7 linked regions of the Homo sapiens genome follow. The protein of the gene in region 6 purifies or fractionates together with the protein of the main gene of each other region. This does not show direct contact. Each region holds a gene or a part of one and is shown on either strand. Other genes may lie near its edges. The genes, in order: LCP1, SERPINB5, CCDC9, DHX16, PHF6, AP3M1 and FERMT2.

The links.
Region 1: the proteins of AP3M1 (region 6) and LCP1 purify together in Homo sapiens (co-immunoprecipitation; one large-scale study listed by IntAct). This does not show direct contact.
Region 2: the proteins of AP3M1 (region 6) and SERPINB5 purify together in Homo sapiens (co-immunoprecipitation; one large-scale study listed by IntAct). This does not show direct contact.
Region 3: the proteins of AP3M1 (region 6) and CCDC9 purify together in Homo sapiens (affinity purification with mass spectrometry; one large-scale study listed by BioGRID and IntAct). This does not show direct contact.
Region 4: the proteins of AP3M1 (region 6) and DHX16 purify together in Homo sapiens (affinity purification with mass spectrometry; one large-scale study listed by BioGRID and IntAct). This does not show direct contact.
Region 5: the proteins of AP3M1 (region 6) and PHF6 purify together in Homo sapiens (affinity purification with mass spectrometry; one large-scale study listed by BioGRID and IntAct). This does not show direct contact.
Region 7: the proteins of AP3M1 (region 6) and FERMT2 purify together in Homo sapiens (affinity purification with mass spectrometry; 2 studies listed by BioGRID and IntAct, with this or other methods). This does not show direct contact.

The regions. Positions count from the first base shown.
Region 1 is NC_000013.11:46,125,423-46,127,800, forward strand, and holds the end of LCP1 (plastin-2), read right to left. Parts: intron 2,302-2,378; coding exon 2,169-2,301; 3' UTR 501-2,168; downstream 1-500.
Region 2 is NC_000018.10:63,497,458-63,500,957, forward strand, and holds part of SERPINB5 (serpin B5), read left to right. Parts: exon of another isoform or gene 1-46; intron 47-1,662; coding exon 1,663-1,830; intron 1,831-3,500. UniProt on the Homo sapiens protein: Tumor suppressor. It blocks the growth, invasion, and metastatic properties of mammary tumors.
Region 3 is NC_000019.10:47,266,525-47,269,488, reverse strand, and holds part of CCDC9 (coiled-coil domain-containing protein 9), read right to left. Parts: intron 2,879-2,964; coding exon 2,697-2,878; intron 1-2,696. UniProt on the Homo sapiens protein: Probable component of the exon junction complex (EJC), a multiprotein complex that associates immediately upstream of the exon-exon junction on mRNAs and serves as a positional landmark for the intron exon structure of genes and directs post-transcriptional processes in the cytoplasm such as mRNA export, nonsense-mediated mRNA decay (NMD) or translation.
Region 4 is NC_000006.12:30,652,627-30,656,006, reverse strand, and holds the end of DHX16 (pre-mRNA-splicing factor ATP-dependent RNA helicase DHX16), read left to right. Parts: intron 1-409; coding exon 410-572; intron 573-670; coding exon 671-832; intron 833-1,127; coding exon 1,128-1,301; intron 1,302-2,636; coding exon 2,637-2,765; 3' UTR 2,766-2,880; downstream 2,881-3,380. Other genes in the region: uncharacterized protein C6orf136, read right to left, coding at 3,092-3,205, 3,290-3,359. UniProt on the Homo sapiens protein: Required for pre-mRNA splicing as a component of the spliceosome. Contributes to pre-mRNA splicing after spliceosome formation and prior to the first transesterification reaction.
Region 5 is NC_000023.11:134,393,812-134,397,311, reverse strand, and holds part of PHF6 (PHD finger protein 6), read right to left. Parts: intron 3,404-3,500; coding exon 3,360-3,403; intron 1-3,359.
Region 6 is NC_000010.11:74,133,829-74,137,328, reverse strand, and holds part of AP3M1 (AP-3 complex subunit mu-1), read left to right. Parts: intron 1-525; coding exon 526-697; intron 698-3,164; coding exon 3,165-3,302; intron 3,303-3,500. UniProt on the Homo sapiens protein: Part of the AP-3 complex, an adaptor-related complex which is not clathrin-associated. The complex is associated with the Golgi region as well as more peripheral structures.
Region 7 is NC_000014.9:52,878,051-52,881,550, reverse strand, and holds part of FERMT2 (fermitin family homolog 2), read left to right. Parts: intron 1-81; coding exon 82-307; intron 308-412; coding exon 413-515; intron 516-2,861; coding exon 2,862-2,969; intron 2,970-3,500. UniProt on the Homo sapiens protein: Scaffolding protein that enhances integrin activation mediated by TLN1 and/or TLN2, but activates integrins only weakly by itself. Binds to membranes enriched in phosphoinositides.

The sequences.
Region 1 (2,378 bases), on a different chromosome or scaffold from region 6:
CTCCCATGTCATGTAAAACTTTGATGAAAGAAATATGTTACCCTTTTCTCTTGTTACCCATCTTTTGTCATAGTATTGGCCGTGACTCTTATGATAGGTGAGGAAAGGTATCACACCTCTTCACTCCTACAAGTTCAGTGTATTTCTGAGTTTGGCTCTCAGCTTTAATTTTATTCCCTGCTTTGCCTAACGGAAATTTATTCTTCAGTTTTTAGCTAAACTATTTCTCCTCAGACTGTTTCCTGTCATAAACTCATGTCTCACCCTGCCCTTCTTTTTATCACTCGTCACATCTGTTATTTTAATTGTTTAACTTCCGTCTTTCCTAAGACAGGCATCAGCTGAGCACAGTGCCTGTTTAGTTCATAGGCACATTCCTAAAACCTTGCACTGTGCCTTGCACATACTAGGCACTCGAACGTGTTGGAGGAATGAATGAATGAACGATTTATAGCACACTGTCAGCAAACTTTCAAAATGAAACATCCAGAGACACCTAATATAGGGAACATTTTATTTGGAAAGATTTTGAGCATCATTCTCTTTTCATTTTTTATTAAGGCAGTAACATTCTTTCTTCCTGGAGGCGGAGGGGGGAAATCATCTGAGGCTACAGTAAGTTCAATCTGAAGTCAAAACCAACCAATTTGTATTCAGAAGCAGCAAAAATACTGGTTATGGGCTGGGAGGAGCCACATGTTGGCTTTCTGAGTCCACTGCCAAGGAACAGATCCAGAGCAATGCATTTCAATTGCTTTGAAAAATGGCTAAGTTCCATTACATACCACCACTAAAGAAGATACCTCATTGATGGAGCTTTTCACCATGATAGAGGGCGTCTTGCATTGGTTCACAATGGCCTGTTGCTTTTTAGCCTTCAGTTGGTTTAGGGGGAAATTGCTCAACCTATGAGACCTGCTCAAATTCATACTGTTCTGGTTTTGCTTTGGAATTCTTTGTCCAGTAAATTAGCTCTTCATAACGCAGTTCCACCATTTCTTATCCAGCATAGATTCATTCTGCCCTTGACAGCTGGCTAGGTGTGTGTGTATGTGAGTAGGGGTGCTATTGATTGGCACATATTGTCCCCCCTGGAGTTTAGGGGTGGCAGAAAGCTTTTATAGTACCAAAAAAGTAAACATTGATAATATGGCCTGACAACAATCAGATATGCTAAGCTCTAGAAGCAAAAGCAAGGTAGGATTGCCTCCAAATGTTGACAGGTATTAGCCATACCACAGTAACTAGATCTAATGTGAGGGCTAAATGCCTGGAGAGGCAGAACCCTAAAGGATGCTTAGTTATAGCTCCATGCTGCCGCCGAGTGGCTTGATGCTCCATTACACCCTCCTTGGATCCAACCTTCCATTAAGGCTGAAGGCTCTAGAGGGCAGAGTATTCAAGATGTTAGATCTGGTCCAAGCCCAAATTCTAGAGTTAAAAGCAGAGGGGTTCTTAGTGGCTGAAAAAAAACAAAACCTGATGACATTTGGGACTCCAGTTTTGAGGAAAGGCTCTGATGATGAGGCTTACTTCTGCAGGCTACCAGAGACTCCTGAGACTTCAACAGCTTGACTGATTTATCACACACTCCAAGTGGCCCAGAGACAAGGACGGCCAGAAGAGATGGGCCCCCCCGGAAGGCATGGTTCCAAAAGTGTGAGGAGCAAAGTCAAGGGAGGCAGGGTAGGAAGAGGGGACAGAAAGAGGGGCTTGCAACAGATCAAATGCTGACCTCCAGGAACAGGGTTTAGGGCAGGTGTGATGTTTCCCCTCCTGGCCCTCATCTTGAACAAAGAAAAGGGAAGCCACATGAAGCTGGTTTGAAAGATTATATCAAAATTAATACCACTGCAGCTTCTATCCTTGGCTAATGGCAAAAGCGAGAAGGGTACCTGGAAAATAACTTCTTTCTTTTCCTCTAGATTTTCGAAGAAGCAAATAAATCAAGAATAGAAACCTATATATAGGAGGTTGGGCCTCCTGCAAAGAATGAAGCACTTTTTGTTAAATACAGGAGAGGCTACTTGGCTGCACTAATATGTGCTTTTTGGAATCTTATAGAGTGTCACCAAGTTGAACTTTGGAATGGCTTGAATCATCCCTGGAGCATCTGTGCCGGGCAGTCAGGAGTGAGTGCACCGCCTCCCACCCAGCCCCATTGGGCCTCACACCCTCTTCATTCCTTTCCCCATGAGGCAGGCAAACACGGTCATGACCATTTTGGGGTTCACTTCAACCAGGTCTTCTGGCAGGGCATACACTCTTGCTCCAATTTTTCGGGCCATAGAGATGGCATATCTAAAAGGGAGAAAAGAGGAAAAATAAGGAGAGCCTGAGAAACACAACACGAATGGGACCCTGGAGGGTCACAGTCA
Region 2 (3,500 bases), on a different chromosome or scaffold from region 6:
GCTGGGCTGTGCTAAGCTTTACCATTGAACACAACGTTTCTGAAAAAAAAAAAAAAAGAGCCAAGCATACAGTGGAGCTCAAAGGGACTTAGAGATAATTTTAAAAAGACTTAGAGATAATTTTAAAGAACATTTTCCTTTTTAAAAATTATGCAATACTCCAAGCATTCAGAAAATGATAGAGAATAATAAAACGAACACCCATATACCGATCAATCATCTTTTTGAACTTAATATTTTGCCTTAATTATTTCAGATATTTTAAAGAAAAAATATAACAACAGTTGCATTGCTTTGTATGTATCCCTTCACTGCTCACTCCACTGTCCTGTTCCTCTTTCTTCCTCCCCAGTGGTAACCATTATTCTGAATTTACAATTTCTTCATTCTACTGACAAGAATACTGAGGCCTGGAGAGATTGAGTGATTTGCTCAAGGCCACAGAATCTGTTTATGTCACATTTGGGACTAAAAACCAAGGTTCTTATCTTCAATTTAGACTTTGTTAATTAGCTCAGATCTGAGTAGGTGGCAGTACAGTGGGGAGTGGGCAATTCAAACCAAAGACAAACAGAGAGGTCACAACAAATATTGTTTTGTTCTGCTATGTGCTAAGTTTGTTGTTGTTATTGTTCTGTTTTGTTTTGAGATGGAGTCTCGCTCTGTTGCCCAGGCTGGAGTGAGTGCAGTGGTATGATCTTGGCTCACACCAACTTCTGGCTCCCAGGCTCAAGCAATTCTCCTCCCTCAGTTTCCCAAGAAGCTGAGATTACAGGCGTGTGCCACCATGCCTGGCTGACTTTTGTATTTTTTAGTAGAGACAAGGTTTCACCATGTTGGCCAGGCTGGTCTTGAACTCCTGACCTCAAGTGGTCTCCCAAGGTGCAGGATTACAGGCATGAGGCACCGTGCCCAGCCAGTTTTTGAAATTAGGCATTTTATTAGGAAAAGCCGTATAAATGGTTATGTGGGTTTGCAGTAGAATTTACTTTCAAGTCAGCTCCACCAGGAATAGTTTAAAGATCTCATAGGCATCTGTAAAGAATAACAAACGTTGCCTATATTTACAGCCATACAGTCTTATTTTTAAGGTTTGATCTATGCAAATACAGTATTATATATACTTCATGTAATGTGTAACATGTAGATTATAAAGTATATGAATAACTTTTCAAAGGAACACAAACTCTTCACAGGACAGTCTCTGGTTTCAGTGCAATACAGTTTGGATCTGAGTGGATGATGAATTATAAGCCATAATAATCTGACACTGTGTCAAGAGCAAATTTGTGTATATATATATATGTACATATATATTTATGTGTTTGCCTATATATGTGTATATATGTGCATGTGTGTATATATGTATGGGGTATATATATATAGTATGTATATATAAGTGTGTATATATAGGTGTGTGTATATGTATATGTATGTATATGTATGTATGCATATATATGTATATGTGTATATATAGGTGTATGTATATATGTATGTGTATCTGTATATATATAGGTGTAGGTATATATGTATGTGTGTCTGTATATATACATGTGGGTATATATGTGTGTGTGTGTGCGCGCGTGTGTGTATATATATATATATATATATTTATGCATGTGTAAATTGAAAAGTAAGCAGTCCAAATTTTCCCTTTTACAGACAGACACCAAACCAGTGCAGATGATGAACATGGAGGCCACGTTCTGTATGGGAAACATTGACAGTATCAATTGTAAGATCATAGAGCTTCCTTTTCAAAATAAGCATCTCAGCATGTTCATCCTACTACCCAAGGATGTGGAGGATGAGTCCACAGGCTTGGAGAAGGTAAGGAGAAGGCAGGTGCTCTCCACAAAGGCACCCCCTGCCTTGGCAAAGAGTTGTGCCAACAGGTCTGTGTGGGCCGTGAGAGCTGGGCCGGTAGCCCTCCCTTATTGCCACTGGCTCAGTCACCTCCAAGGACCCATGGTTCTTTCTGGGGCCTTTCCTCCTTAATATTAACAACAGCCAAAATTTATTTGGCACTTACAGTGTTCTAGGGACTGTGCTAAGTTGCCTACGTGCATTATCTCATTTAATTCTTACAGCAGGCTGATGAGTTAGAGACTGTTACCACACTCTTGTTTACCAGTGAGGGAGCTGAGGCACAGAGGGGTGGGTAACTGGTTACATAATTAGTCAAGGGTGTGTGCAGGATCAGGATTTGGGCCCAGGTAGTTGGAGCCAGGTTCTTAACTGAAGGCTAGAGTGTCTCCCTCACCTCCTAGGCAGTTAAGGCACTACGTTGCTACGCACTGCCAGGTCCACTATCATGTGACCTGATGTCAAGCATCCTCTCTCTTGCTCTTTCTTTTTTTTTAAAATTAGTAGATGTTATTTTTAGAGTAGATCTATGCCTACAGAAAAATAAGCAGAAAGTACAAGGAGTTCCCATATACTCCCCTTCCCGTCCCAGGCCTACAGTTTCACCTGTTATTAGCATCTTGCATTAGTTTGGTATGTTTGTTACAATTGATGAGCCAATACTGACATATTACTATTATTATTATTATTATTATTATTATTGTTTTAGAGACAGGGTCTTGCTCCATTGCCCAGGCTGGAGTGCAGTGGCATGATGGTAGCTCACTCTAACCTCAAACTCCTGGGCAGGCTGGAGTGCAGTGGCATGATGGTAGCTCACTCTAACCTCAAACTCCTGGGCTCAAGTGATCCTCCTGCCTCAGCCTCCCAAGTAGCTGGGACTAAAGGCACACAGCACTATGCCTGGCTTTTTTTTTTTTTGTAAAGGTGGGATCTCACTGTGTTGTCCAGGCTGGTCTTGAAATCCTGGCCTCAAGCAATCCTCAGCCTCAGCCTCCTGAAGTGCTAGGATTATAGGCATGAGCCACCACACCTGGCCTTCACAATTTACGTTACGGTTCACTCTTTGTGTTGTACATTTATGAGATTTTAATACGTACACATATATGCTTCAAAATTTTGAATTATGCAGATACTATTTTATAGTACACATTATATATAAGTATTTTATTTTATATGATAAGGGTTATTATATTATTTTATTTATATAGATTTTTAAGGCACAAAGTTTAAATAAGAGTAGCAGTTTTCTCTGCAGGTGAATGGAGTTTTAGCTTCCTCTCTGCTCCCTCACCTCTGCTTAGCTGGCTGAGGCCTGTTCTCCCTTTAGTCCCTCCCTGGCTTCCATTCTAGCTCCACCCCGCCTGGCCTCAACCCTTGGCCAGGAAGGAAGAAGGGGCTCTTTGAAGGCCTGGATCACTTGCTATATATCCACATGGGCCTCAGTGATTTGCTGACTTTCCAGGGGACCATCCAGTCTCCAGCTTGCTCCTTTGGTTGCCATTATGTTTTAGCCACCACTTTATTAACTGAATTATAATTCCTGTCCTTCTTCTTCTTTGGTGCATTACTCTCTCTGTTTTTTTTCTTTCCATTTTATGCTTTGATCTTTCAGCCATTATCCAGCTGTCTTG
Region 3 (2,964 bases), on a different chromosome or scaffold from region 6:
ATCTCAGCTACTCGGGAGGCTGAATCAGAATTATTTGAACCCAGGAGGCGATGTTGCAGTGAGCTGAAATCACACCACTGCACTCTAGCCTGGGCAACACAGCAAGACTCAGTCTCAAAAAAACAAAAAAAAAAAGATAATATTATTACACAGATTATCTAAGTCTAAAATTCTAACCTCCACCCTGGCTGCTTACTCTGCATCATTATCCTTCTGGGCCTAACATTAGACCTCTTAATTACCCACCTTGCCCACTACACTCTTAGTTCCAAAAAGGCAGAAATGTTTTGTTTGCTGCTGTATCACCTAGAACCTTCCATGACATAGAGGAGGACTCAAATATATGCTGATGAAAGCAAGACACCATGCATTTTTTTTTCTTAGAGATAGGGTCTTGCTCTGTGGTCCAGGCTGGAGTGCAGTGGCATCATAACAGCTCACTGCAAACCTCCTGGGTTCAAGCAGTCCTCCAGCCTTGGCCTCCTAAAGTGCTGGGATTGTGGGGATTACAAGCATGAGCCACCACGCCTGGCCCAGACACACATTATTATTATTATTATTATTATTTTTTGAAACGGAGTCTCTCTCTGTCGCCCAGGCTGGAATGCAGTGGTGAGATCTCGGCTCACTGCAAGCTCCACCTCCCAGGTTCACACCATTCTCCTGCCTCAGCCTCCCGAGTAGCTGGGACTACAGGGCGCCCACCACCACACCCGGCTAATTTTTTGTATTTTTAGTAGAGACGGGGTTTCACCGTGTTAGCCAGGATGGTTTTGATCTCCTGACCTCGTGATCCACCTGCCTCAGCCTCCCAAAGTGCTGGGATTACAGACGTGAGCCACTGCACCCGGCCCACACAAACATTATTCATCAGACTTGTTGCAAACTGCTTTTAGGACACATAAGAAAAACAAATACTTTCTCATTGTGAATGCTGAGAACATCTCCCCAAAAGCCCAGCTGCCTCCTCCTTAGGAAGATCAGCTATAGTATCTGTGCAAATTATTTCTCACACTCGCACAGGCTTGGTTCACAATCCACAACAAAATGCTTCCCGACCACTGGGCAAACAGACAAAATCCTCCTTAGCCAAAGCCAAAAAACAAGTTATAGGTGAATGAAAACTTTCAACACAGGAAAGAATGGGGGATGAGGTAAAACCTAAAGTTGCTGATCTTTAAATACTGCTATTTATCGGCTCTTCCAGAACCTTCTCCTTCTTGGTTATGGAAGTTGGTCCCCATGACGATGATGCAATGAGGGCTTTGCTTTAAGTCTGACTGAATCGGGGGACAAAGTCAAACTTGAGGTTAACAATGCCACTGGGTTAAGAAGGTGGTGGTGCCGGGCGCGGTGGCTCACACCTGTAATCTCAGCACTTTGGGAGGCTGAGGTGGGTGAATCATGAGGTCAGGAGTTCAAGACCAGCCAGGCCAACATGGTGAAACCCCACCTCTACTAAAATTACAAAAAATTAGCTGGATGTGGTGGCACGTGCCTGTAATCCCAGCTACTCAGGAGGCTGAGGCAGGAAAATCGCTTGAACCCAGGAGGCGGAGGTTGCAGTGAGCCGAGATCACATCACTGCACTCCAGCCCCGGCAACAGTGCGAGACTCCGTCTCAAAAAAAAAGTAAAAAAAAAAAGGTGACGGTGAGGCATGGAGACATTCAGGGATCTGAGTTGCTGGGGACAGGTCAGAGGCTGGCAGGAGGATGCAAAGGTCTAATCGCTGTTAAACAGCCTTCATGCCCTCCCTGCGTTGGAACTGATGTCCCTGCCGCCACCGGTGTTCCTATCCACTGGAGGGGGCAGAGCTTATTTCCCCGCCCCAGTGAGGCGGGGTGTGCTGGCGAACACAACTGGGAAGTGTGCCTGCTTGTGCATCTGCCCATGTCAGGGCAAGCGCTCCCCAGGCAGCTGCTGCCCTCAGCCTGGACAGCAGAATGAACACCCTGGCGCAGAGTGAATTCACCCTGCTGCAAGAAGCCAAGCCCAGCGGGACCCACAGCTTAGCGTCCAGCCTGGATCAGCTCAGCCCAGCATACCCATGAACACAGAAGAAATCCTCTCACCCCAGCTGCTCAGGAGGCGGAGGCAGGAGAATTGCTTGAACACGGGAGGCGGAGGTTGCAGTGAGCTGAGATCCTCCCACTGCACTCCATCCAGCCTGGGCGACAGAGCTAGACTCTGTCTCCAAAAACAAAAAGAAAACCAGAAATGCTCGGCCGCGCGCGGTGGCTCACGCCTGTAATCTCAGCACTTTGGGAGGCCAAGGCAGGCAGATCACAAGGACAGGAGATTGAGACCATCCTGGCTAACACGGTGAAACCCTGTCTCTACTAAAAATACAAAAAATTAGTTGGACGTGGTGGCGGACGCCTGTAGTCCCAGCTATTCGGGAGGCTGAGGCAGGAGAGTGGTGTGAACCTGGGAGGCGGAGCTTGCGGTGAGCCGAGATCACGCCACTGCACTCCAGCCTGGGCGACAGAGCGAGACTCCGTCTCAAAAAAAAAAAAGAAAACCAGAAATGCTCTCACGTGCCGCTGAGCTCCAGCAGCTGGTCCATGGCATCTCAGGATACTTGGCAGTCACTCACTCATACACAGCAGGAAAAACCAGAGAGAGGCATAGGACTTAGAAGTCAGGGCCAAGGTCAACGTGCCACATGGGGAGAGGAGCGGGGAGGAGACTCACATCCCATCGGTCTTCTCGGCATCCCACTCGCGCCTCCACTGGCCAGTGGGCTTGCGGTGCCTCTGCAGCCGCTCCTGGTCGATCTTCTCCCTCTCCTGCTTCCAGCGCAGGTACTCCGACCGCTCCCGGCCCGTCATGGACAACGTCATGTCTCCAGCACTGCCCAGGCCAGCTCGGCGGCCCTGCCCCCCAGCCCACAGGGAGTCAGGGTGATGTCCCGCACCCTACCCCGCCCCTAAGCCCCGAGGCACATCCACTTGCTCAGGAT
Region 4 (3,380 bases), on a different chromosome or scaffold from region 6:
CTGCGCCCGGCCCCTTGAGGAACTTACTTGTTCCTAAGGTTTCCAACTAGAACATTTAGATGTAGCTGTGGAGGGATGACCTTTAAATGCCATTCCTCTGCTGTCAGAGATCTTTTCCAAATGCACATAGTGAATGCACACTTTCTGCAGAAGCCTCAGAATTCCCCGGTGTTTCCTGCTCCTGCCTCCATGGATGTCCCTCCTTTGTGACTGTGTTTCATCTATGGCCCCTACTTCCTTGACCCCCAAGCTGCTGCCAGAATCTATCTGCTGGCTGCTTTGTAGCCATTATGCCAACCAGCCTTCCCCACATGAGGAAACATCCATCACACAGTGATCACTCCCCACTCCACCATATCTGTTCCTATGTGTCTTGCTTTGAACTCATGCTTTCCCCTTCCTGTCCCAGGTACAGCTGTTCAGAGGAGATCCTGACAGTGGCTGCCATGCTCTCTGTCAACAACTCCATCTTCTACCGACCAAAGGACAAGGTCGTCCATGCTGACAATGCCCGTGTCAACTTCTTTCTCCCTGGCGGTGACCACCTGGTTCTGCTAAATGTTTACACACAGGTCACTGGGCTTGGGTGAGTGGGAATGAGAGACACTGGGGGACTTTAGTCCTGCTGTATACTTAATTATCTCTCCTTTCTTTTTAACTGTCTTCCCAGTGGGCTGAGAGTGGTTACTCTTCCCAGTGGTGCTATGAGAACTTTGTACAGTTCAGATCGATGCGCCGAGCCCGGGATGTGCGGGAACAGCTGGAAGGGCTCTTGGAACGTGTGGAAGTTGGTCTCAGTTCCTGCCAGGGGGACTATATCCGTGTACGCAAGGTCAGCATTTCTTCAGCCTCCTGCTTTCCACCCCCAGTACCTTCCCAGGAGCAAGCTTCTCTGGGGGCATGCAGCATTTCCTCCAGCGTGAGAGCATGCCCTCTTCCCCTTGTGTATGACGTGTCCTCCCAGGGCCCTTTCTTCCCCAGACCACTGAAGGTTCATTCCTGGGAAGTTCTTCATGCATTCCTTACCTCTCTAGTTTTCCTGAAGCCTGAACTAAAAAGGTAGTGCATTCTTAGGGTCCCCAGATGTCTGCCTTTTCCATTGATTTTCTTTCCTGCCCGCTCCTTAGGCCATCACTGCTGGTTACTTTTACCACACGGCACGGTTGACTCGGAGTGGCTACCGCACAGTGAAACAGCAGCAGACAGTCTTCATTCATCCCAACTCCTCCCTCTTTGAGCAACAGCCACGCTGGCTGCTCTACCACGAACTTGTCTTGACCACCAAAGAGTTCATGAGACAGGTGAGGAGAACATCCTGTGCCCACGCAGGTGGAGACTATGTAGAGAGATGGTGTCCTGGCAAGCTAAGAACCCAGGTTCAAGTTGCTGGGACTGGTACAGAAAGAGGAAGGTAGGGTAAAATAGAAAGACATCCTTTGTTTTTTTTTGTTTTTTTTGAGACGGAGTCTCACTCTGTTGTCCAGGCTGGAGTGCAGTGGCGCAATCTAGCCTCACTGCAACCTCTGCCTCTGGGGTTCAAGAGATTCTCATGCCTCAGCCTCCCAAGTAGCTGAGATTACAGGCGCAAGCCTCCAGGCCTGGCTAATTTTTGTTATTTTTAGTAGAGATGAGGTTTCACCATGTTGGCCAGGCTGGTCTCAAATGCCTGCCTCGGCCTCCCAAAGTGCAGGGATTACAGGTGTGAGCCACCATGCCCAGCCCAAAGACATCCTTTCTAACAGGTGTGTCAGCATCTTCCAAGATCTGAGAACTAGACACTTATTCAATAAATATTTGAATGGCTACTGTATAGGTGCTGGGGCTATAATGAACAAAGCAGTCTCTGGTCTCACAGAGTATAGTCTTTATGTTCTAGGCTTTTCTTTTTTTTGAGAGTTCCGTGCTGTTGTAGCCCAGGCTGGAGTGCAGTGGCACCATCTCAGCTCATGCAACCTCCGCCTTCGGTTTCAAGTGATTCCCCTGCCTCAGCCTCCAGTGTAGCTGGGATTACAGGTGCCCACCACCACGCCCAGCTAATTTTATATTTTTAGTAGAGACTGGGTTTCACCATGTTGGCCAGGCTGATCTCGAACTCCTGACCTCATGATCCGCCTGCCACGGCCTCCCAAAGTGTTGGGATTACAGGTGTGAGCCACTGTGCCTGGCATGTTGTTCTAGACTTTTCTTGGGAATAGCTTATTTGGTATCTTGAATAACATACAGAGGTGTATCTGCCCTTTGGGTATATAATAATAGAGCCAGGCACCTTTACACCTAGCCCTGCAGTCAAAGAGGAAAGATAACTTTTGACCATACACATAAGGATCTAGGTTGGGGCTGGGCATAGTGGCTCATTTTTGTAAACCATCCCAGCACTTTGGGAGGCCAAGATCAGCCCAGGCAACATAGTGAGACCCCAACTATACAAAAAATTAATGGTGCACTGTGATGTGTGCCTGTAGTCTCAGCTACTTGGGAGGCTGAGGCAGTAGGACTGCTTTGAGCCATGATACGCCACTGCAGTCCAGCCTGGGCAATAGAGCAAGACTCTGTTTCAATTTAAGAAAAAAAAATAACAACAACAAAAGATCTATGTTGGAAAGAAGGGAACTCCATTGATCTTTTCTCTCTCCTAGGTACTGGAGATTGAGAGCAGTTGGCTTCTGGAGGTGGCTCCCCATTATTATAAGGCCAAGGAGCTAGAAGATCCCCATGCTAAGAAAATGCCCAAAAAAATAGGCAAAACACGAGAAGAGCTAGGGTAAGAGAAGGACGTAAACAGAACCTGACACCAGCTCCTTTTCCTTCTATACATTATTTAATACCTATTAAATAAAATTATTTTTGGAATAAAGCTTGTGGGAACATTTGGGATCTAGAGAAAGTGATATGTGAAATTCTATCTCATATAGTCAGTTAAACTTTATTATTTACAAGTTAAATTACACAGCAGCTTTACACAGCATGAGATGGAAAGGAAGGAAGGAGAGAAACGAGGAGAGGAAGCTGGCTCCTGAGATTCTTGGCTGCCTCCACCTCCTTCTCTTGGGCGTAGCAGTCTTCAGTGCTGCCTCCACTCCAAGGTCAAGGATCAGGGCTTGGAACACAGGTTTAAGTCAGGTTCTGGCTCTGACAGCCCCAGGGCCACCAGGGCTCCCACTAGCAGCTTCTTCACAGGCGTTGGAGGTGAGTGTGAAGGCATCAGCTGCAGGGAGAAAGGTTAATGCCAGTTGGGGGAGGCACACAAATGTTCTACCCTTTACCCCACCCAGCCCTACCTAGGACTCACTTTATCTAGACGATGGCGACAAATGAGGCCACTGGAATTCAGGTAGAAAGTGGAGTAGGCATCATAGGTCCTGGGGAATAGAGGGAGGCTT
Region 5 (3,500 bases), on a different chromosome or scaffold from region 6:
TCACCACTAACAGGTAAATACATACAGTTCCTGGGACGGGCATTCTAATAACCTAGTGACATAATGATAGTTATAAACTCCATATAGATTTTTAAAATTGCTTTTCAAATTCACAGTCCATTTTTTCCTGAAGCAAAACTGATGACATAGGTTTTAGGTATTTAATATTCAATAATATTTTATTTGTGATGGGAAAATTGAATTGCTATATTATGCAATTATTCTCAAATTTAATATTTCAAAACAGCTCATTTTATATAAAGCTAACATGGCAGAATGAATTATATATTAATAGCATTTATCATATTAAGTATTAGCAAAGTAAGTATTGAGCCACAGATGGCAAATGACCAAGACATTACCATAGATATTAATTCATCTTTGTTCTGGAGACTAGTGCAGTACAATTCTTTTTTTTTTTTTTTTAGTGCAGTACAATTCTTAAAAGACAGTCCCTGAAATACAATCCTATAACCTCCCATCATAAACCATGATCGTAAAGGAGAACATATGTTTCCCATTAGAACAATGGAATAATTGGAAGTTCTGTTTCTGACAAAGCACTCAAAATCAACTAAATTTGAGCTAGATCAATGTGATAAAAGCCAGAAATCAATAAATATAAAGCTTTAATACTTTAAATTATAAAATTATTCTTTCAAGGTCCACAATGAGTATAAACACACTATATATAAAAATGATACAAGCCCCCCGCCCATTGTTCTATAGACGTACACATCGAATCCCAAATTCAAATTAATTGTAGCACAAATCTGAAGTTATAATAATGCTGCCAGTTACAGTAAAAGAAAAGTTGTCTTGAAAAGTATGAATTTAGATCTCTATTAAGTGTCACAGTGCTAAAACATGGCCAAAATTATTCTACTTTATATAGTTTGCAGTGACTTCTCCCTACCACTAGATGGTACTGTCAGCTTCAGAAATCCAGGGAATAAAATGGGAGCTATCTACATAATCAGTATATATTAATCATCCTTCTTAATTATCTCAAATATCCTGTCTCAGTGTGCTCATACTTGTATTCATCAGATCATGAGTCTCAATTCTCAGCTTAACATACAGCATAACATAGTCTCAATCCTCAGCTTAACTTGGATTGTTTGAAATAGGGATGGATACCCCATTCTCCATGATGTACTTATTTCACATTGTGTGCCTGTATCAAAATATCTCATGTACCCCATAAATACACACCTACTCTGTACTCACAAAAATTAAAAATAGATTAAGAAAAAAACCATATAGGGCCACTACAGTCTTAAAGAGAATGAAATAAATGCACTGTTAAAATCTGAAATAATGGAAGGTGGAAAAGCGTACTCAATCTTTCACAAAGGATTTTCCAATTCAATTCTAGAATTCAGTGAGGAGAAAACAGAAGAAAAGCACTACTAAGGTTTTTTCCGTCATATTTTATCACCTCAAAAAAATTATTATTTATCCAGCATGTTTACCTTAAAGACTAGATTTTGCTAACGACTGTATTTTTAACCAACACTTTAAAGTATCTGGACTAATCTCGAGTCCAGAAGTGGAAACTATATTGTTTTGTATTATAAAAGCCAAGATCTAGAGATCAAAAAGGGCCACCAATTTTAACATGCGAATACCAATAATTAGGTAAATCTTCATAAAAGAAACAGCTTCCTAAAACAACAGTGCTCAAACCATTATAATTCTAAGCAACATATTCTCAAAAGCGAACAAAAATTTTAAAGATCTCTAATCTAAATGAAGGGATAGAACAATCGCAGATTACATCTAAGCCATTTTATATTGCTAGTAAAAGTATCAAAACCATCTGTTTGAAAAGGTTTGAAACAAGTCAGAACTCAGTATCAGAGTTTTCGCATACTTTTTACAGACCAAGTTCAACTTGGCTAACTATATATAAACATGACTAACCTGGTTTTATATAAATTTAAGTAGAAACAAACTATTAAATAATTTTTAAAGTTTGTATTTTAAATTTGGTTACTTATTAACACATTGGCATTTTTTAAAGTACTACAGATGTGAATAAAAATATAACAGAAAGCCTGGTGATCACAAAATGTACTACTATTACCAAGCTCACATCATTTATAATATGACAGTATCAAGGATCCCATTTATCATCCTTAAAGAAACACGCAGCTGGCCGAGCACAGTGGCTCACGCCTGTAATCCCAGCACTTTGGGAGGCCGAGGTGAGTGGATCACCTGAGGTCAGGAGTTCCAGACCAGCCTGGCCAACATGGTGAAATCCCGTCTCTACTAAACATACAAAAATTAGCCAAGCGTAGTGGCGGGTGCTTGTAATCCCAGCTACTCAGGAGGCCGAGGCAGGAGAATCGCTTGAACCCAGGAGGCAGAGGTTGCAGTGAGCCGAGATTGTGCCACTGCACTCTGGGCAACAGAGCGAGATTCCGTCTCAAAAAAAAAAAAGAAAAAGAAAACAGAAAAGAAACGAGGCCGGGCGCAGTGGCTCACGCCTGTAATCCCAGCACTTTGGGAGGCCAAGGCAGGCGGATCACGAGGTCAAGAGATCAAGACCATCCTGGCTAACACGGTGAAACCCCATCTCTACTAAAAATACAAAAAATTAGCCAGGCGTGGTGGCGGGCACCTGTAGTCCCAGCTACTCGGGAGGCTGAGGCAGAGAATGATGTGAACCCGGGAGGCGGAGCTTGCAGTGAGCCAAGATCACGCCACTGCACTCCAGCCTGGGCAACACAGCGAGACTCTGTCTCACAAAAAAAAAAAAACACAAAGAAATGAAACACGCAGCCACCAGCATAATTTCTTACTAAAGATAGATTTTCAGCATATACTTTACAAGGACTTTGGGGTAAAAGTTTTCTTAAAAGTTCAGATCTTGGTCGGGCACGATGGCTCACGCCTGTAATCCCAGCACTTTGGGAGGCTGAGGCAGGTGGATCACGAGGTCAAGAGTTCAAGACCAGCCTGGCCAACACAGTGAAACCCCATCTCTATTAAAAATACAAAAATTAGCTGGGCATTGCAGTGCACGTCTGTAATCCCAGCTACTCAGGAGGCTGAGGCAGGAAAATTGCTCGAACCTGAAAGGTAGAGGTTGCAGTAAGCTGTGATCACACCACTGTACTCCAGCCTGGGCGACAGAGCAAGACTTCGTTTCAGGAAAAAAAAAAAAAAAGAAGTTCAGATCTTTTTCACTATGCACATTAGTTTATCCTAACACTTTTCTCAATTCTTCTAAATGTACTGAATGTTGAGATATGTCTTATGGTTAAAATTAATATAGTATAATTCACTAATCTGTACTCAAATTTCTTCTTGAAACTGAAAAGTGGCTGAAACGTGGCTAAATGATGTACCTTCGGAGTTATGTGCAGTTTTCTTGTGTTTTCGGCAATAGACCCTATAAAAAATGAAGAAATCAAAAATTAGTAAGCAAACTAAATTAAACTCACTTTTCAAATTAAGAAAACGAGCAGTACACTTCACCCAATTCACTA
Region 6 (3,500 bases):
ATATCAAGAAAATATTGAGGAATAATATTAGGACTATAGAGGGGTTTTTTTTGTTTGCTTGTTTTGTTTTGTTTTGTTTTGTTTTGTTTGAGACGGAGTCTCACTCTGTTCCCTAGGCTGGAGTGCAGTAGCATGATCTTGGCTCACCGCAACCTCCGCCTCCCGGGTTCAAGCAATCCTCCCGCCTCAGCCTCCCAAGTAGCTGGGACCACAGGTGTGCACCATCACACTCAGCTAATTTTTGTATTTTTAGTAGAGACAGGGTTTCACCATGTTGGCCAGGCTGGTCTTGAATTCCTGACCTCAAGTGATGCATCCGCCTCAGCCTCCCAAATTGCTGGGATTACAGGCATGGGCCACCATGCCCGGACTATAGAGGGTTTTTTCCCCCGCTCTGTTTTATATATGTTCAGCAGCTTAAGCAATGAATTATGCTACTCTAAGTTTATTCTTCAGAACAAAAAGTATTTAGCAGGCCTTTCTTTTTGCCTTCCATTGTGTGATATTTTGTGTGTATTTTGTCAGGACTACTTTGGTGAGTGTTCAGAGGCTGCAATTAAGGATAATGTGGTCATAGTATATGAACTCTTAGAAGAAATGTTAGACAATGGATTTCCACTGGCTACCGAATCTAACATTTTGAAAGAATTGATTAAACCACCAACAATTCTACGCTCTGTTGTCAACTCTATTACAGGTAAGATGAAAACATACTGTGCTAGTAACTGAGCAATTAAAACTTTGTAAACAACTCATTATTGCTCATGATCTGACATATTATTAAGGTAGTACAATTTGGCCATAATTAAAGTTACTGGTAAAGTTAAAATGGATGTACTATATATTTATTTTCATGGAAAGAGGCTAGACCTTAAGTGATAAAGAACTTTTGGTTATTACTCTTTTTTTTTTTCTAAAACACCACAACAATATTATTACCATTATTTAACACTAAATACTAAGACTGAATAAATTGTTCCAGTTATTCCTAAAGAAGCCAGTATATGAGCCCACTTAGAAGAGAATTTAGTCCATTTATAGACTGGCATTTTAATATTTAAAATAGCATTACATAACTGGTATGCTGCTACTCCACAATTACTAGAGAATAGAAAATTTAAGACGCTTAACCACACAGTACTACAATCTCCTCCAAGTCTTTGTTTTTATGCATTCAGAAGATGTATTAAGAAAAAATAGGAAATAGTTTACTTATGAGATCTCATGCATTGTGGGCCTGTACTTGTGTTGTAAGCTTCCAGCTGGGTTTAATTCTTGAGTGTAGCTAGAAATTAGGCACATCCAGATACCAATATTCTTTCGAAAGCATTAAAGTCTTTTAGACAAAGATTCCTATGAAATGTTATATGCCACTCCAACTCCACTGTCAACCATTGTAAACCCCTGTCCAGTGCCTTGACCTAAAAATGAGGTGAGAGAGGCCTATAAGAAAAAGATCATTCAGCAGCTCTTTATTCATCCTTTGTGTAAGGACGAATGTTAGGAGAAATTCAAAGAAAGATAAGATGGTGTGTCTGTACTCCTAAAACTTATACTCTGAATGGGACATTGGAAAAAAAATTAAGTAAATAACTGTATAAGACTTTAAAAAGCAATTCCATACTTCACAGATAAAGTAATAGCATTGGAAAATAAATACACATGATGTAACGTTAAATTGAAAAGTCAGCACAAAACTGAAAAAAATTATTCTTATATATAAATATTCACTCCGACAAAAAAGTATTTACAATGATTATACCCAGCTAAATACAGATTATATTTATTTTTGCTTTATACTTTCTAATTTTCCAAAATAAACATGTATTTTATAGTCAGAGAAAAGTTACTAAAATATATAATGCAAAACATAACAGATTCATTAGATAGTGTATTACAAAGTTCAAGAGAATGGTTCCATTAATGAAGTAATCCCTCCTGAACTGTGGTGGGTGGCCACCTTGGAAAATCAGTAGAATTCAGGAAGTGAGGAAGGAATAAGAGCATTCTCCATGGTGGAACTGTATGAGAAAAAAACACACATGAAAGAGAAAAACCTAAAGTTTTATTAATCCCTTTAGCAGAAGCAGAACTGTTTTTCACTTGAGAAGTTAGAGATCAAATTAAAAAGTAGAGAAAGTCCTTCAAAGCTAGGATAAATATTTAGCTTTTATCATAAAGCCAGTGAGCAAACATTGAACGTTTTTGAGCAGGAAGATAACATGATTATAGGTTGCAGGTAGGAACACCAATCATAAGTAGACTGCAAAATTGTAGATACAGTATGATTGCGACTATATTTTAAAGTGCAATTAAAAACCAAAATTATCAAAATAGAAAAAAATGCAACCTTCTGGTGGTGGAAATATTCAAAGAAATATACCAAAATGTTAATATTATATTAAAATGTTAATACCATAATATTAACAAAAATGTTAATGGTAGATATATTTTGTTAGTAAGAAGACAGGTGTTTTTCTTTAAACCACTTCTCTGAACTCTACCTTTTTGTTGTTGTTAAGTATGTAGTACTTTCGAATGGGAAATATAAATTAACCAAAATATTAAGTAAGTCACAGCTCAAAGATATGTGTTTTGGACAACCAGACTTATTTTTAGGCATGTGTCAGTTTACCAGGAAATGAGCTGGATACTGAATACTAGCTATATTGCAGCCGTATGGGTATGCTGACCTTAAAATAGGAAAAGGCCAGATTCCATTTACTCCACTGAGGCGTGCTTGGCAGCATCTCATGTAAAATAAAGTTGAATACTGAAGGGCCTAGTTATAACTCTGTATTCTCACTGGAGACATTTTATTGGCAGAAGGTTTTGAAACAACCAACCTCTTTTTTCATCAGTGGCAGAGATTCTGTTGTTGAGCCACTGGAATTAGATTAGATTACTGTTAACACACAGGAGGCAAAAGATAAGTAAATAAATTTAACCTGGTTTGGCAGGTAGACAGAGGGCCACATGGCCTATATTTCTTTTCTAGAAATTTGATCATGTTGGTATGGATATGTCTGACAATTCTAGTGACCATCCACAACTTCATTAAGAAAAATCCAAACATTGAAGAAGCAGCTTTTTTTTTCCTAGTAATAAATTTTCTCATGACTGTTTTATACATCAGCTTTGCCTTCTCCTTTTTTGGTTTCTAGGCAGTAGTAATGTTGGGGACACACTCCCCACCGGGCAGCTGTCCAACATACCATGGCGTCGGGCAGGGGTAAAGTACACAAACAATGAAGCCTATTTTGATGTTGTTGAAGAAATAGACGCAATTATAGATAAATCAGGTAATTGTGTGCATGTCATCTTATTTGGGGAAAAACAATTCATCTGACACAGATGAATAGAAAACTGAAGTCCTGGCCGGGCGCGGTGGCTCACGCCTGTAATCCCAGCCCTTTGGGAGGCCAAGGCAGGCGGAACATGAGGTCAGAGTTCGAGACCAGCCTGGCCAACATGGTGAAACTCTGTCTCTACTAAAGATA
Region 7 (3,500 bases), on a different chromosome or scaffold from region 6:
TTATATCATAATATGTGTTATTATTGAAAAATAAGATGCTGTACTGCATACTTACTACCTGTTTTTCATGTTACTTATTAGGAAGTATATATTCAAGCCCAGGACTGTATAGTAAAACAATGACCCCCACTTATGATGCTCATGATGGAAGCCCCTTGTCACCAACTTCTGCTTGGTTTGGTGACAGTGCTTTGTCAGAAGGCAATCCTGGTATACTTGCTGTCAGTCAACCAATCACGTCACCAGAAATCTTGGCAAAAATGTTCAAGCCTCAAGCTCTTCTTGATAAAGCAAAAATCAACCAAGGGTAAGTTTTAAGATATAGATAAAATTGAATTTCTTCATCCAGCTAGAGGTAGAAATATTGTCTTCATTCTGTGTTGTTTTGTTCCACTGTTCTTAATTTGTCCAGATGGCTTGATTCCTCAAGATCTCTCATGGAACAAGATGTGAAGGAAAATGAGGCCTTGCTGCTCCGATTCAAGTATTACAGCTTTTTTGATTTGAATCCAAAGGTACCGAGGGTTTAAAGGGATCTTTTTTTTTTCCCCATTAATTTGTTTTGTTCACATGGATGTTTGTTTTTGGAAGTCGGTGGAATAAGGAATTATTTGTATATAGGAAATCTTGAATAATTATTAAAAACCCAAACTTTTAGGCAAAGGTATTTGTATTTTAAATAAGTCTATTTTAGTAGGTTGGAAGCATAACTAAACCTTTTTATTGTTGTTATTAAGATAATGAAACTTTTGGCTGATTTGGTTTTATCTTTTTTTTAATCTCTAAGCTCTTAGAGTGTCATGATTTGTATTTTAAAGGTACTCTTTTGGTACTATAGAACTGGCAAAGTTTAGGCCGGGTGCAGTGGCTCAACGCCTGTAATCTCAGCACTTTGAGAACCCAAGGTGGGCGGATCACATGGTCAGGAATTCAAGACCAGCCTGGCCAACATGGTGAAACCCCGTCTCTACTAAAAATACAAAAACTAGCCACGCATGGTGGCACACGCTGGTAATGCCAGCTACTTGGAAGGCTGAGGCAGGAGAATCACTTGAACCTGGAAGACGGAGCTTGCAGTGAGCCGAGATCATGCCACTGCATTCCGGCCTGGGCAACAGGGCAAGACTCCATCTCAAACAAACAAAAAAAAGAATTGGCAAAGTTCATTTTTAAAATATAAGACCTCTCTTCAACTATATTTAAATAAAAGTTTCAAAAAGGTTACCTTTTCAATTACTTTTAGATTACTAATTACGTGCCAAAAGATGTTGCTTCAAAAAAACGTTTTTTTCTTGAGACAGGGTCTCACTCTGTCCTCCAGGCTGGAATGCAGTGGTATGATCATGGCTCACTGTAACCTCAAAGTCCTGGACTCAAGCCATTCTCCCACGTCGCCTCCCAAGTAGCTGGGACTACAGGCTCACCCAGCCACACCTGGCTTTCTTATTTTCTGTAGAGACAGAGTCTCACTATTTCACCCAAGCTGGTCTCAAAACTCCTGGGCTGAAGCCATCCTCCTGCCTCAGCCTCCCAAAGTGCTGGGATTACCGGCCTGAGCCACCATGCTCAGCCAAATTTTTCTTAGGTCTACATTTTTTTCCTCTGTAACAGACAAACACTGTTACTTGTCTTTACTATGATTGGTATTATCTCTGCTACCATAGTACTTCACTTTTCTGGTAAGATTTAACTTTACCATAAATATCTGGAGCTTTTTTCCCCCGTAGAAAACACTTGGCACAGAGGTTTGAATCTTTTACTTCTCTTTCAGCCTGGGGAAAGAAACCTCTCTTGGCTACCCTCTCATCCTTTTCATGTTTAGAGTATAGTCTAGATTTTAATGTTATGTTTACATTCTTTTATTATATGCTTAAGTAATTCTTTATACAACAGTAAAATCTCTATAATAAAATTATAGAAAATAATTTTAATTCATTTTCAGGCCACATCATACCTACTTTTAGTAAAGCCAAAGCTACTTTGGGAATAGTTACATTTGTGAGGGGAATGGAGATGTATTTTGTCAACGTTCTAAAATACATGTTGAGCATTCCTAATTTGAAAATGTAGAATGCTCCAAAAGCTAAGACTTTTGAGGGCTGACATGATGCTGAAAGGATATGCTCATTTTGGATTTTTATGTTAGGGACACTCAACTGGTATAATGGAATATTCCATCATCTATAAAAATTCTAAATTCAACACAGAAGGTCTCAAGCATTCTGGATAAGGGATACTCAATCTGCAGTATTCTTAAGGCATTACTATTGACTTTTATTTATATAATTAAATGGATAATTGAATAACATATAAGTAAACATTTTCCACAAGTATATTTGCCCTGTATTTTGCATACTTAAAATAACTGCCGTTTCCAAGGACTTGCCACTTTATCTGGGTATGCTTCTCCACAGTGAACAAAATGTTCCCCAGAATAATTTGCTTTCTGATTACATGTTTGTATGGCAAGTTGCAGTAATAACACTGAAAAATAATCGGTAGTTCCGCCTTACTTTAATGTCATCAAATTAGATTTCTTATGTTAAAGGCTATAATGTCTAGTGGTTATTTCCCTGAAAAATAACATACAGAATCTACTTTTTAATACTGTACAATCAATTATTCTCTGTCATATTTTAATGTCATTTTTAATGGAAAATTAGATGTGGGCATATATAGGCATGTCTGACCCCATAGGTATCCTTCTAATAATACTTGATTGTAAATAAAAATTCTTGCTTGTAAATTAAGATCCCAGGAAAAAAAGCATTAAATTTTTCTTGTCAATTGAATATTCAGAGTTTGAAATTTTTCAATGGTAAAGGTTATATATTACAAAAGAACTATTTCTCTTGTTGCAGTATGATGCAATCAGAATCAATCAGCTTTACGAGCAGGCCAAATGGGCCATTCTCCTGGAAGAGATTGAATGCACAGAAGAAGAAATGATGATGTTTGCAGCCCTGCAGGTAGTTGAAAGGTCTAGTAAATGGGACTTATTCCGGTAAAGGGTAGGGAGGTATTTTTAAACAGTAAAGTGGAATAGTAATTCCAGTAACATTTCACGAGACAGAATTTTTGCCATGAAGAAAGTGAGTAGACACTTAGGAAAGCAAAACAAATACATTTTAGTTTGATTTTTTATCTTTTCCAAGAGTTCAGTGGTATACTTAAGTACTTTTCTCTATTTTGTAGGAAAAAAATTATCCTATTTTGTAGGAAAAAAATTATCCTCTCACCCCCAAATATAAATCTGCTCAAAGCTCCTCAGTTTTTCCTTGGAAAGAAAATATTTATTAAAAATCAGATTTCTGAAATCTAATCTGAAGCTTACCTGTATAATTTCATAAATAGCCAGGGATGATACAACACACTATAAAATGGGCTGTAGCAAAGCGATGCTTTTAGGTGATAAGATTTAGAGAGACTAGTGGAACCAAACCTTTTTCTACAATGATAATCCTTAAGTAGATAGCTAACATTGTCCTTAGATTAAACCA